2 linked regions of the Homo sapiens genome follow. The protein of the gene in region 2 purifies or fractionates together with the protein of the main gene of each other region. This does not show direct contact. Each region holds a gene or a part of one and is shown on either strand. Other genes may lie near its edges.

Evidence for each region.
Region 1: the proteins of ZNF786 (region 2) and NEMF purify together in Homo sapiens (affinity purification with mass spectrometry; one large-scale study listed by BioGRID and IntAct). This does not show direct contact.

What each region holds. Positions count from the first base shown.
Region 1 is NC_000014.9:49,832,253-49,835,907, forward strand, and holds part of NEMF (ribosome quality control complex subunit NEMF), read right to left. Parts: intron 2,198-3,655; coding exon 2,111-2,197; intron 1,245-2,110; coding exon 1,171-1,244; intron 26-1,170; coding exon 1-25. UniProt on the Homo sapiens protein: Key component of the ribosome quality control complex (RQC), a ribosome-associated complex that mediates the extraction of incompletely synthesized nascent chains from stalled ribosomes as well as their ubiquitin-mediated proteasomal degradation.
Region 2 is NC_000007.14:149,077,195-149,080,849, forward strand, and holds part of ZNF786 (zinc finger protein 786), read right to left. Parts: intron 3,524-3,655; coding exon 3,397-3,523; intron 1-3,396. UniProt on the Homo sapiens protein: May be involved in transcriptional regulation.

The sequences.
Region 1 (3,655 bases), on a different chromosome or scaffold from region 2:
TTTCTCTTTTCTGAATGATATATCCCTACAAAAATGCAACATTAAAATCATTCCTATTCATAATTAACAAAGATTTACTTCTTTTTTTTTTTTTTGATACAGTCGCGCTCGCTCCATCACCCAGGCTGGAGTGCAGTGGTATATTCTCGGCTCACTGCAACCTCTGCCTCCCGGGTTCAAGCAATTCTCATGCCTCAGCCTCCCAAGTAGCTGGGATTACAGGTGTGTGCCACCATACCTGGCTAATTTTTGTATTTTTAGTAGAGACAGGGGTTTTGCCATGATGGCCAGGGTGGTGTCGAACTCTTGGTCTCAAGTGATCCGCCCACCTTGGCCTCCAAAAGTGCTGAGATCACAGGTGTGAGCCACTGCACCTAAAAATTTAGTTTCTGTGACTGATATTAATTTGCACCTAATCCAAAGGTTTACTTTCTATGACTGATATTAATTTTAATTTTCTATAAATAGTTATGCTTTGAAAAGGGAAGAAAAACACTCATAAGCTACTAGGTAATTCAAAAAATATTTAATGGTTGGGAGCTGTAAATCACAACATTTTTGAAAAGGGCTGACAAATGAAAATGTGCTTCTCTATCTGAAACTAAAGAAATAACTGTAAATTCCTCAACTTTTCTGAAGAGCCGATACTAACCTGACATTGTACTTTCTATAAAAGATAGGGAACAGAAAAAAACTTATAAACCAACAAAAACTTTTAAAACACTATCCTGGGCCGGGTGCAGTGGCCCATGTCTATAATCCCAGCACTTTGGGAGGCCAAGGCAGGCGGATCACTTGAGGTCAGGAGTTCGAGACCAGCCTGGCCAACACGGTGAAACCTCATCTCTACTGAAAATATAAAAACTGTCCAGGCATGGTGGCACGTGCCTGTAGTCCCAGCTACTCGGGAGGCTGAGACAGGAGAATCACTTCAACCAGGGAAGCAGAGGTTGCAATGAGCCAAGATCATGCCACTGCACTCCAGCCTGGGTAACAGAGCAAGACTGTCTCAAAAAACAAAACAAAAAAACTATCCTGGAATAAGCATATTACAGATAACAATTTTCCAAATTAAAATAAAATGTATATATAATGATCCTTTAATGAACGTTTAATTTCTGAAAACCCAAATAAATCACAACAATATATAGTAAGTATACATGGTGCTACCTTCCCACTGAAGTTGGATGTTGTTTTCATATAGTCTTCTGCTTTCTGCAGAGAAACAAGTACTTTTTCAATATCTAATGGTGGGGGAAAAAAAGGAAAAAAGGAGTGCCAATCAAGTGTCAATTAACCGTGGCTAAACAACTATGTAGAAAAACAGGAAAGTGCTTACAAAATAATGTTGCGTTCAAGAAAATTAGAGATAGTGATTTCATGTTTATAACCAGTATATGTGGATATATGGTTTCATTTTGAACAGCCTGTTGTCCAAGTAGCTTTTATTGAATCATCCACCTTTCCCTCCATGACCTGAAAGGAACTTTGTTCATAAACTAAATTCCCATATTATTTCAAATTATTTTTGGAATCTTTATGCTATTCCTTCTCCAAAAACTTACAGTTTTAATTACTATAGCTTCATATTTTAATCTGTGAAGGGTTACACAGACAGTAATAAATCATTACTAGTATTTTCCAGAGTTATCCTGAACATTTTCACATGCTTTTGCTCCATATAAACATCAGAGTCATTTTATAAAAACAAACAAAAACAAAACACCACCACCAGCACCTGTTGTCATTTTATGAGTGCACTGATTTAGTATATTGCAGAAACTAAAACATTCACTAAAATCTCATTCAATTTTTTTTTTTGAGAGTGGTGATACTTGTTTTTGTGGGGTTTTTTGAGATGGGGGTCTCACTCTGTTGCTCAGGCTGGAGTGCAGCTGTGCAGTCACCACCCACTGCAGCCTCAAACACCCAGGCTTAAGTGATCCTCCCACCTTAGCCTCCCAAAGTGCTGGGATTGCAGGCATGAGCCAGTGTGCCTGGTCAAATGTTTTTCATTCTAGAACCACCTGCTCCCTTATTACTTTCCCAGAAAAAATTTTCATAGTTTAAAAAAAATGAAATAAATGAAAAATGTACCATGCAGACATACCTTTAGTTTCAAGTTTTTCATCCACTTTGACATTACCCGAGAATCCATTTTCTAAAAGACAGTGTTCAATGAGAGCTGGTCCATAGGCTATAAATGCAGAGGATATTACTTTTAGTATTTTCCTATAAATTCTTTTTTGTTTTTGTTTTTTGAGATGGAGTTTTACCCGTCGCCCAGGCCGGAGTGCAATGGTGCAATCTTGGCTCACTGCAACCTCTGCCTCCCACCTCCTGCCTCAGCCTCCTGAGTAGCTGGGATCACAAGCACCCACCACCATGCCCAGCTAATTTTTGTATTTTTAGTAGGGACAAGGTTTCACCATGTTGTCCAGGCTGGTCTCGAACTCCTAACCTCAGGTGATCCACTCACCTCAACCTCCAAAAGTGCTCAGATTACAGGTGTGGGCCACCATGACCTAGCCTAAAATTTAACATTCAAAATATAGCACAAATTTATTTCCCAATATCAATGATCTACTCAATAACAGTGGCTGGTGAAAACAATAAGTTTACTTATTTTGAAGTGTTACTTAGAAATGACAATTCTAGTTCTTAGACTGGGTGCGGTGGCTCATGCCTATAATCCCGGCACTTTGGGAGGCCAAGGCAGGCAGATCACCTGAGGTCGGGAGTTGGAGACCAGCCTGACCAACATGGAGAAACCCCATCTCTACTAAGAATACAATAAATTAGCCAGGCGTGGTGGCACATGCCTGTAATCCCAGCTACTCAGGAGGCTGAGGCAGGAGAATCACTTGAACCCGGGAGGCGGAGGCTGTGGCGAGCCAAGATCGTGCCATTGCACTGCAGCCTGGGCAACAAGAGTGAAACTCCGTCCCCCGCCCCACCCCGCAACCAAAAAAAAAAAAAAAAATGACAATTCTAGTCCTTAAAGAAATTTGAAACTACAATTAACTTACAAAAGTCAGTGCAAGTTATAGGAATTTAATGGGCTTCAACCACAATGAGGATTTATCCCTGGAATGCAAGGTTGGTTTGGCAACCAAAAATTGGTTAATATAATACTCCATATTGATAAAATAAAGGAAAAGAGCCATATATCATTTCAATAGATGCAGAAAAAGCATTTGACAAAATTCAACACTAATTCCTAATAAAAACTCTCAATAAACTAGGAATAGAGGGAGCATTCTCAACCTTATAAGGACACCTATGAAAAACCTACAGCTAACATGATAATTACTGGTGAAGGACTGAATATTATCCCCCTAAGATCAGGAACAAGGAAAGAATATTCAGTCTCACACTGCTATTCAACATTGTACTGGAAGCTATAGCTAGCACAATAAGGCAAATTAATTAATAGCATTCAGATTCTAAAGGAAGAAGTAAAGCATCCTTATTCACAGATGACATGATCCTGTACCTTAAAAAATCCTAAGGAACCCACAAAAAAACCCTACTAGAATGAATAAACAAGTTTATCAGGTTTGCAGGATACAAAAACCAATATATAGAAATCAATTGTATTTCTATGCAAAAATGAAATTAAGAAAATTCCACTGACAATAGCATCAAAAAGAAT
Region 2 (3,655 bases):
CATGTTCTTTAGGATCAGCTTATCAAATTCCGCAGAAAGCTCTATTGGGATTCTGACTGGACTTGCTTTGAATCTATAGATTCATTTGGGGAGAGAATTGACAGAAGGCAGAAAGATCCATGTAACTGACTATTAGATTAAGAAGATGGGTGGCCAGGCGTGGTGACTCACGCCTGTAATCCCAGCACTTTGGGAGGCCAAGGCGGGTGGATCATGAGGTCAGCAGATCGAGACCATCCTGGCAAACACGGTGAAACCCCGTCTCTACTAAAAATACAAAACAATTAGCCAGGCGTGGTGGCGGGCGCCTGTAGTCCCAGCTACTCGGGAGGCTGAGGCAGGAGAATGGTGTGAACCCGGGAGGCGGAGCTTGCAGTGAGCTGAGATTGCGCCACAGCACTCCAGCCTGGGCGACAGAGGGAGACTCCTTCTCAAAAATAAATAAATAAATAAATAAAAGAAGATGGGTGTTCTCCTAGCCGGCCACAGTGGCTCACGACTGTAATCCCAGAACTTGGGGAGGCCAAGGCAGGTGGATCACTTGACCTCAAGAATTCGAGACCAGCCTGGGCAACATGATGACGATGATGGATAATCACAAGGATATGATGAAAGCATGAGAAACAGTTGTGGCCCAACAGCGAAACAAATTAAAATGTAGCATAATTTTGTCTTTTTTTTTTTTTTTGAGATGAAGTCTCACTGTTGCCCAGGTTGGAGTGCAATGGCGTGATCTCGGCTCACTGTAGCCTCCGCCTCCTGGGTTCAAGTGATTCTCCTCCCTCAGCCTCCCAAGTAGCTGGGATTACAGGCATGCACAACCACACCCAGCTAATTTTTGTATTTTTAGTAGAGATGGGGTTTCACCATGTCGGCCAGGCTGGTGTCAAACTTCTGACCTCAAGTGATCCACCCACCTCAGCCTCCAAAAGTGCTGGGATTACAGGCGTGAGCCACCACACCTGGCCAAAATGTAGCATAATTTTGAACAACTGATAAGAATGAAAAAAAGAGAATCCATTTGATCTTGATGCTTGGAACATTCTTATTAGGCTGGCACAGGGTTAATGGCATAGAATTATATTTTTGCCTCTATAGATTCATTTACTGTAACTGATTCTTCAGTAACAATGAAAATAATGTAATGTTTTCAGTTATATGTTTTAGAAACAATCCATACATACAGCCTGCAAAAGTTAACTATGGTAGGCCAGGCACGGTGGCTCATGCCTGTAATCCCAGCACTTTGGGAGACCAAGGTGGGTGAATCACCTGAGGTCGGGAGTTTGAGACCAGCCTGACCAACATGGAGAAACCCCGTCTCTACTAAAAATATAAAATTAGCAGGGCGTGGTGGCGCATGCCTGTAATCTCAGCTACTCAGGAGGCTGAGGCAGGAGAATTGCTTGAACCCAGGAGGCGGAGGCTGCGGTGAGCCGACATGGTGCCATTGCACTCCAGCCTGGGCAACAAGAGTGAAACTCCGTCTCAAAAAAAAAAAAGTTAACTATGGTAACAGAACAGAATATAAATATTAGAAACTTTGCAATATAAAGGAAGTGGTATGGCTGTTGTCAACTGGCAGAAGAGATGAAGAGAAATACTAGAGAACTAATTATCTTTATATACTGAATGAGTCAGATGAAAATGATGGAATACAATCTAGAATCTTAAACATATTATTTTAAATTATAAAGCTGACCAACAGAGGCACAAAAACTATCAAAAACTGGGGAGAAGATGATAGAAGAGGGATTGTATAAGTGAACTAATGCCTAATTTTTCATAGTAATTAATTCTGTCTAAACTCGATAAATCAAGTTATTGGAAGCGTATTTAGATTGGAGGAAGCCACTTTAAAAACTAAAACAAAAATGGTTAAAAGTGGTTGCCCTCACGTGGTTAACTGAATGTGGAGATAAGAATGAAACGGGCTGGGCGTGGTGGCTCACGCCTGTAATCCCAGCACTTCGGGAGGCTGAGGAGGGCGGATCACGAGGTCAGGAAATCGAGACCATCCTGGCTAACACGGTGAAACCCTGTCTCTACTAAAAATACAAAAAAATTAGCCGGGTGCAGTGGTGGGCGCCTGTAGTCCCAGCTACTCGGGAGGCTGAGGCAGGAGAATGACGTGAACCCGTAAGGCGGAGCTTGCAGTGAGCTGAGATCCCGCCGCTGCACTCCAGCCTGGGCGACGGAGCCAGACTCCGTCTCAAAAAAAAAAAGAATGAAACAGGAGACTTCGATCTTTCACTTGATGCTTCTCTGAACAGACTGATTTTTTAAAAATGATATTTGATAAATGAAATATAAAAACCAAATAAGCAAAAAGGACATCCAATACCATACCCAGGCAGAGACAGCTACTCTTTTTTTTTTTTTTTTTTTCCTTTTTGGAACGGAGTCTCACTCTGTTGCCAGGCTGGAGTGCAGTGGCGTGATCTCAGCTCACTGCAACCCCCGCCTCCCAGGTTCAAGTGATTCTCCTGCCTCAGTCTCCTGAGTAGCTGGGACTACAGGCGCCCGCTACCACGCCCAGCTAATTTTTGTATTTTTAGTAGAGACGGGGTTTCACCATGTTGGCCAGGATGTTCTTGATCTCTTGACCTCGTGATCCACCTGCCTCGGCCTCCCAAAGTCCTGGGATTACAGGCGTGAGCCACCGCGCCCAGCAGACAGCTACTCTTAAAACACTTCAGGCCAGGCGTAGTGGCTCACGCCTGTAATCCAGCACTTTGGGAGGCCGAGGTGGGTGGATCACGAGGTCAGGAGATTAAGACCATCCTGTCCAACATGGTGAAACCCTGTCTCTACTAAAAATACAAAAATTAGCCGGGCATGGCAGCACGCACCTGTAGTCCCAGTTACTCGGTAGGCTGAGGCAGGAGAACTGCTTGAACCCGGAAGGCAGAGGTTACAGTCAGCCAAGACTCCAGCCTGGGCGACAGAGTGAGACTATGTCTCAAAAAAACAAACACTTCATTGTACACCCTTCCAAAATAGCTTTTCTGAAGTATTTAGACCCCACTGTAAAAGCTGTGAGGTGGGGACATCCTAGGTTAAAGATATACAGAGCACTTCATGAATGTGCGCTAGGTGTGCTCCTATGTGGACAATCATGGCATCCTGATAGTCATGACTAAAGGCCCCTCATAAATAATATTTAGTCACCCGGACCACCTTACATTGTTCAAATATTCTCATGTAACAATGTCTACCCTTGAGTAAAGATTAACAATGTTGACAAAAGTATTAACAATAGATTGCAGGGTAAAAATACCCTTCTGAGTTAATTTCTGAGAAATCTTGCTACCTGAGAAACAGGAGCATCAAGTGACTGTGACCCCTTACAGGATCCAGTTCCATGACCTACCCACAAAGGTGAACAGGTCTTACCTAGAGAGACGAGAGTCTCATAATTGCTTCTCATCACATGCTTGTAAAGTTCCTTCTGCCATGCCTCTAGATCCTGCCATTCTTGCTCGGAGAAATAAATAGCAACATCCTCAAAAGTCAGAGGTAGCTGAAATTGTAGACATAAGACATATGCATTCATGGTTGCTTCAAAATGACTCCAGCTCCTTCTCCTTGTTAATTTAAAAGACTTCTGCAGTGGACAAATGTTTTTGGTTGTTCAGCAGCTTCTTCCTGGAGA